Linked DNA regions of Homo sapiens. The protein of the gene in region 2 interacts with the protein of the main gene of each other region in a pairwise test. Each region holds a gene or a part of one and is shown on either strand. Other genes may lie near its edges. The genes, in order: PPM1F and KLHL8.

Region 1 (3,818 bases), on a different chromosome or scaffold from region 2:
GCATGGCCTCATGGTTCAGGGCCACTAGAGGGTGGAGGGACAACCCTGGCCACTGTTTTGACATGAGTCCAGGTGGGGACTTGTGGGCATCCAGAGATCCGGTCTCAGGAGATGGTGCCAGGAGCAGCAGCTGGGTGGACATTGTCAAGAAGTGACAGAGGAGGAAGACTGTTCCTGGCAGAGGGTGGCCAGCGTGGCCAGAGACGAGCAGGACAGGGATGCCGAGGCCAGGCACTGAGGTAGGTGAGGGGGTTCAACCTGATCACGGGTCCCGAGCAGCCAGGAGGGCTCTGAGGTGAGGGAGTGAAGCCACCAGGTCTGTGAGCCTGGACGTGGTGACCAGATGGCAGGAGGGACACCTGTTGGGGCTCTAGTGGTGTTCAGGGGAGGAAAGAGAAGGGCCAAGATGCGGGAGGCCGGCCCAGGGCTGTTTTGGAGATAGGCCAGAGTGGGAGCAGGAAGGGATCCCCAGAGGCTGCTGGGGCCACCCAAGGGGTGGCCAGGAGAGAAGCAGAGGTTTAATCTGGGACAGACAGGAGGTGCTGTGGGACACCATCGAGCCTATTCAATGCTCTCTAATAGGAGGAGGGAATTGTGAGCCTAGAATGGCTCAGGCCTGCTAAGCCCTGGCTGGAAGAGGGGCACTGTGGACAGTTCCAGGCGCTGACCCCACTGTGCGGCATGTGGGCTCTTCCTCCCTAAGTCCTTAGGGATGACCAGAGCTGACCAGCCCTGGGAGTTGCCCCTAACACCCCAGGAGCCAGGACAAGCCCCCATTTCACAGATGAGAATCCCAAGGTTTGGAGAGGGTTAGTCCCTCGCCTGAGGTGTCAGAAGGAAGACAGGGCCAAAGAGGGATCGCAAAGCCTGTGCCTTCACTCCCTCACCGGCTTCTCTCTCACTGGAAAGAGGCACATGGTGCCTCACAGCCTCCTCCCAGGGTGGCTCTGGCTCCTCTTCTCTCCTAACTCCGAATCTCCATAGTCGCCTCCCCAGCCTGCCTGCCTTGCCTATACCCAAACAGCTCTCCAGCGCCCCCCCTTCCATGTTCTTTGCGTCGCCCCGGGGATTCACCTCCAGGCCCCACACCTGGGCCTCCCTGCCAGCACCCACTCAGCATGGACCCTTCTCTCTCCTGCCCCCTTCCTCTCGGGTGCCTGACCCCTCCAAACCCTCCCCACAGCGGGGACTCCACCTTGGGCTTTGTCTAACACTCAGGCTGGGAAACTTTATTCAGCGAGTCCTACGCAGTAGTGGATGAGATTGGATCCAGAAAAAAATAAAAAAGAAATCCTACACAGTTACTAAGCCAGGGAGAAAAACTGCATTCTTTTATGGTGACAAACGGACATGAGACTCTGAGGAACACCCCGAGTTCTAGGGTGGAGAATTTGGGGAACAGTTTCACAGCCCATCACCTTCATGAGGACTTCCAGGTTCTGAAAACTGAACGAAGAAGGCAAGGAGAATCTTCTAGAATCATCAGTCTTAGAATAGCCACAGACTCTGCCTACAAACTTTGCTAAAAGGGCGGCTGTGGCAGGGGCCTGAGGTGCAGGATGAAGAGAGTGGGAAGTAAGAGATGCAGGGAGCTCACAGCCCACAAGAGGGCTGTCCTTATCAGGAATTGCTAACTTGGAACAAGCCTTCTGGAAGCCTAAAGATAAAAAACACAAAAGAGAATGGGGTGGGCAGAGGGAAAGGTCCCAGCACCAAGTTAAATGTCTGATCAGTGAGGGATTTGGAATGCAAGGGGTGAAGGGTGGTAAATTAACAAAACACAAAACCCTTCTCTTCTTTTAGAGGCAGAATTGAAAGGTAATTTATTTAAAGTGGACACATACAAATAACGTAGGAATAGGGGTGCTTGCTACTGAAGGTTCTGGGGATAGACTAAATTTATTGCTATGGTTCACATTTACTCACAAGTAGGAGTAAATTTAATGCAACCCAGGTTACAGAAGGCAAGCAGGTAAAAGGATAAAGAACATAAAACAACTGGCAAGGCGCTGTGGCTCAGGTCTATATCTCAGCGCTTGGGGAGGGTGAGGCAGGAGGAGTGCTTGAGGCCAGGAGTTCAAGACCAGCCTGGGCAGTGAGATCGCCACCCCCCCCCCACCCCCCATCTCTACCAAAAAAGAAAAAAAAAGAACATAAAGCAAAAAAGGAAAAATCACTTTGAGAGCAGGAGGGACACTGACATTCAAACGACAAAGGGAAGACTGTGAGCTGGAGAAATGAGCAGAGGCTGGGAGCCCTAGTAGGTCAATGAGGAGGCGGCACGTCCTGCCAGCCATGCCCCAGCAGAGCTGTAAGGCATTCGAAGATGGCGTGAATTTCCCAGCAAGCTTGGCTGCCCTCAAGCAGTGCAAGCGGCCAAGGGCCCCTCTTCTGCCTGGGACTGCCCTGGCCCCTGGAGCTTCTGGGAGAATGTGAACGATGCAGAGCTGCCCCCAGCAACTGCCAGTGCCTGGGGCCTCCTCCCACTCCCTTGCAATTCCAAGTGATCTGGAGGCTCTACTGTCTCACCACAAAATGTGCTCATGTGAATTTATGATTAGGATCCAAGTGAGAGGACAGCATGCTCCCCGCTAGAGCACACAGAGGGCCCCCCTGGAGAAACCCCTGCCCACAGTGTAAAGCCCCACTGTCAAGGGCAGAATTCAAGACCCTTCACTTCCACCCCATTTGCTGGTGACGTCTGCTGGACCTTTTGGGATGCAGGTGCCTCCTTCTTGCCTCCTGACCTTGGGGTACTCTTTCCTGTGCCGTGAGCCCCTCCCCACAATCGGCCTGTTCCCTCAGGGAGGGTGGCTCCTCCTGTCTGCACTACAGACCCTGATTCACTGTGGCCACCTGCCTGCTCTCTCTGTGCCTTGTGCCCACTATCTGCACATGCCTCAATGGTGTCTGTGCCATGTGTACTAAGTAAGGTCTGGGGGGTGTGATGATGTGTGTGTGTGAAGCTCTGTCTGCATCTGTAGAGGGGACAGGCTGGCTTACTCTCAGGGCCTGTGCCAACTGCCTGCTCTTGTTACAAAGGCAGGGTGCCCAGGGCCATCTTACTTGCTGGGGACCAAGCACCCTTGTTTCTGCATCACCAACCTAAGGCAAGGGGTGAGGAGAGAAACCAGGACACAGCTTTCTCTCCCTGGAGCCCAGATGTCGAAAGGGACAGGAATCATTTCCTTCCTTTTCCCAATAAGCTCCTGAATCTGACGTACACCATGGCACACCCGGCAGGAAGGAGAAATTCCTCACCAAGGGAAACCAGAGGCAGCCCTGGGAGTGCCTGGAGGGGCAGGGGACAGTGCTGTGGTTCTTTGAGGGATCAACTGGAAGAGACAGCATCAGGAATGGCATGGAGGCCAGCGGCAAGCCGCAGGGAGTAGGGAGAGCTGGGAGAGCACCAGAGGCAGCGGAGCCTGGTGCTGGGCTTTCCTGAGCAGGGCACACCAGTGAAAAACTCCGAATAAGAGGGACGTGTGCATGAGCCTGTGCAAATCACCAAGAGCCCGGGGTGGGCATGGGAGGGACATTGGACTCCTGCATCCCAGCACCGCCTGCCTGGACCAGTCTGACCAAATGCGACTGGCAGCTGGTTCCTCCTGGATCAGGGCCCCACTGCACACCAAATGGGTGCTCACCCTCCTAGAACCTATTTAAGGTCCCACATAGGTGAGAAATGGCAAAGCAAACTCATCGGGGGGCAGCTGCAGGGGTGTGGCTGACGGTGCTGCCAGCTGCCATCCGCCCCTGCTCTGAGCACTCTTCCTGGGATGGCTTTTAGCCTCCCAACAACCTCTTGTGGTTATCCC
Region 2 (3,818 bases):
TCCGCCCTCCTCGGTGGATCCCGCCCAAAGTGCTGGGATTACAGGCGTGAGCTGCGCCCGGCCTTTACTAAACTTTTTTAAGTGAAGTGGAGATAGTTTACAAAATAAATGTTAACTCTTTTTTTTTTCAATAGCAACAAAAGCACAGATTTATTGAAATGAAAGTACACTCCACAGAGTGGGAGCGGGCTCGAGCAAGTGGCACTCGAGCCATGATGAAGTCCTAACTAGTGGAGTTAGGAATGCTTTGTATGTTGATAGTCAAGTGCTTTACTAATCCAAAAGCCTTATTTTCATTGTATTTCCATTCATATTGGCTAATCTCTGGAAAATTACTCAAAGTTTTTATTAATAGTTGGTATTTCAAGCTTTTTAAACAAAAGTCTAAGGAATCATTTAATGAATGTTGATATTCTACATATTTTAATACTGAAGTGTGACATGATTTTTCCCTGAGTACTGTTAAGTTTAGCCTGAAGCTCCCACCTTATGTATTTTAAACTTGGCCTAAAAGTTTCTCTGTACACAGTAAACTGTAACCTAACTGGTTGTGTAAACAGACTGCAACCTACTCTTGTGCTAATCACTGAGGTTCAGCCAATTAAAGGCAACCAGTTGTTCAACCTGTGTTCAAGTAAGGCTGACCCTGAGCTGTAACTGACCCGTCTGTTTCTGTACCTCACTTCCGTTTTCTGTGTGTCACCTTCCTTTTTCTGTCCGTAAATAATTTTCGACTATGCACCAGCACCAGTGTCTTTGAACCTATTCTTGTTCCAGGACTGCCCAATTCTTGAATCCGTCTTTGCTCAGTTAAACTCCGTTAAATTTAATTGTCTAAGGTTTTTCTTTCGTAATACTATCTTGAATTAGTCACACGTTCACTGATCTAACAAAGAAAGAATGTAAATTAGAAAATTAAGTAGTATCAGGGACATATAGTATTTATATAATTCTAAATACACGGTAATGTCTAATATTATGTAGCTTGTGTGTTTTTCATCCAATTTTAAACATCAGGTCTTTAGACTTTGATTCCTTTCATTTTCAAATTTCTAATGAAATGATTTTGGTAATTGGTAATTATTTTTTTGTACCAGAGAAAGAAAATGTACAAATAAACTTTCAGGAATGTAATTAACTATATAACATCAAAGGAGAATCAGTGCATTAAAAAGCCAAATTTTTGGCTGTTCCTATTTATACATGTGGCTTAAAGATCTTTATAAAATAAAGATGGATATTTATTCTAAAAGGGTACATAGGGGTGTATGTGTTAAATAGCCACATTTTAGTTTGTTTGAATCAAGACTCAAATGGAATTGTAAAGGGACAGAATCTTATTAAAAACAACATGAAAATGACTTGCCGGCCATTGATTTGTACAGCTTGGATGGCAAGTGTTAAAATAATGGTTATCTAGAAATTGTAGAACCCTATTTTATGATACTATTATGTAAGAGAGTGTTGGCAAGTTATTTAATGGAGCAGGTTTAAGTCATGTGAGACTTACAAATATTTGCATAGAAACTGAATCCCAGTGGTGGCATGTGGAAATAATTTTTTAAAGGATATGCTTAGGCTATTTAAAAGTTATTTAGTATCAGATTTCAGATCCCATTTTAGAGCTGACGTGAATTTGAAAACATGCCAAGCTTTATGTTATAGTCTACATTACAACTTTAGTCTCAATGGAATCTAAATACTGCCTTGTGAGTTCTGTGAAAAAATTTAATATAGCATAACAGACAGAAATGATTGTCTTGTACTTTCTGAAATAAGTGATACTGCTTCTTCCTCCACATTAGTGAAAAAAGACTGAGGAAGGGGCTTTTATAAGCAAAACCATTTATACATTTGAACACTCTAGGAGTTGTCATTTTAAAATTAGTTCTCAAATAATGAGATACAACTGTTTATTATATAATCAAAACACTACATGAAAACAGGAAAACTGTTAAAATAGTACTATAACTGTTACTTGTATTTGATTATTATAAACTCCTGGGAAAATGGGATAAATACTGTATTAAAAAGAAGATATCTTCCCACTCAGTACCAAAAACTTCCAGATGTAAGTAAAAATTTAAGTGTAAAACATAAAACCATAAAAGTAGTATAAAAAATACGTGAAGTAAATATAGAATATTAGAATGATTCCCATTTCTAGCAGGTACCTAAAACAATAAATAAAAAGACTTCATTTAATTACATAAAAATCCATAGGGTTTTTATATAAGAGAATAAAATTTGAAAGCAAACTAAAAGAGAAGTTTGAAATATATATGACAAATGCCTAATACTCTGATTATATGATGAGTACTTATAAATAAAAAATTTGTAGTTCATAGAAGAAATACAAATAGCTCAAAATTTATAAATGATTCAATCTTAAGAGCAAAAAAGAAAAAAAAAGATGAGATCTTTTTATTCATCAAATTGGCAACTATGGCCGGGCACAATGGCTCACACCTATAATCTTAGCACTTTTGGAGGCCGAGGCGGGAGGATTGCATGAGCTTAGGAGTTTGAGATCAACCTGGGCAGCATAGACTTTGTACAACAACAACAACAATAACAACACTCAAGATATGGTGCAAATACTGTAAGAAGCTCAGAAATGGACAGTTTGACATTATGTATTCACATATTCACATTGTATCCTTTGAAGCAGCATCTCTACTTACAATAATTTATCTGTTGGAATAATAGAGAATGTGAATAACGATTTAGTTACAAAGAAGTTCACTAGTGTGCTATTTGTAATAGCATACTGTTGGAAGCTATCTGATTTTTCAATAATTAAGGTGATGAGATTGCAGTGTTTTTTTTTTACTGCTTTTATGTGAGCTATATCATTTCAAGATAATGTAAATAGAAAATAAAAAAAAACCTCAGTTGAGCTCATAGTAAATACTACTAAATATTTACTCTCTGCTCCAGTTTTCTGATTGATAAATTGTGGATAATAATAGTACTTACTCATAGGGATGTTGGGACAACTGAGTTAGTATATGAAAAGCACTTAGAAGGCCAGGCTCTGTGGCTCATGCCTGTAATCCTAGCACTTTGGGAGGCCAAAGTGCGTGAATCACTTGAGCCCAGGAGTTTGAGACCAGCCTGGGCAGCATGGCAAAACCCTGTCCCTACTGAAAAATACAAAAATTAGCTGGGTGTGGTGGCACATGCCTGTAGTCCTAGCTGCTGGGGAGGCTAAGTTGGGGGATTGCTCGAGCCCAGCAGGTTGAGGCTGCAATGAGCCATGATCACGTCACTGCACTCCAGCCTGGGCAACAGGGTGAGACCCTATTTCAAAAAAAAAAAAAAAAGCACTTACAATAGTGGTTGGCATGTAATGAGTGCTAACTGATGTTTGCTGGTATTAATTCACAAAATGTCCCTGAAATATAACATAGAAAATCATGGTTTGTTGTGTGTATGTTACAGATACATATATAAAAGAGGCCGAGTGTGGTGGCTCACACTGGTAATCCCAGCACTTTGGGAGGCTGAGGCAGGTGAATCAGTTGAGGCCAGGAGTTCAAGACCAACCTGGCCAACGTGGTGAAACCCTGTCTCTACTGAAAAAACAAAACCCACAAAAATTAGCCAGGCGTGGTGGTGCACGCCTGTAATCCCAACTACTTGGTAGGCTGAGGCAGGAGAATTGCTTAAACCCAGGAGGCAGAGGTTGCAGTGAGCTGAGATTGCGCCGCTGCTCTCCAGCCTGGGCAACAGAGCAAGGCCTTGTCTCAAAAAAAAAAATTTTTTTTTAATTTTAAAGTATGTGTATATATATATATGAATATGATATGTGGTTA

The links.
Region 1: the proteins of KLHL8 (region 2) and PPM1F interact in a two-hybrid assay, tested with the Homo sapiens proteins (one large-scale study listed by BioGRID).

What each region holds. Positions count from the first base shown.
Region 1 is NC_000022.11:21,946,195-21,950,012, forward strand, and holds part of PPM1F (protein phosphatase 1F), read right to left. Parts: intron 1-3,818. UniProt on the Homo sapiens protein: Dephosphorylates and concomitantly deactivates CaM-kinase II activated upon autophosphorylation, and CaM-kinases IV and I activated upon phosphorylation by CaM-kinase kinase. Promotes apoptosis.
Region 2 is NC_000004.12:87,185,990-87,189,807, reverse strand, and holds part of KLHL8 (kelch-like protein 8), read left to right. Parts: intron 1-3,818. UniProt on the Homo sapiens protein: Substrate-specific adapter of a BCR (BTB-CUL3-RBX1) E3 ubiquitin ligase complex required for The BCR(KLHL8) ubiquitin ligase complex mediates ubiquitination and degradation of RAPSN.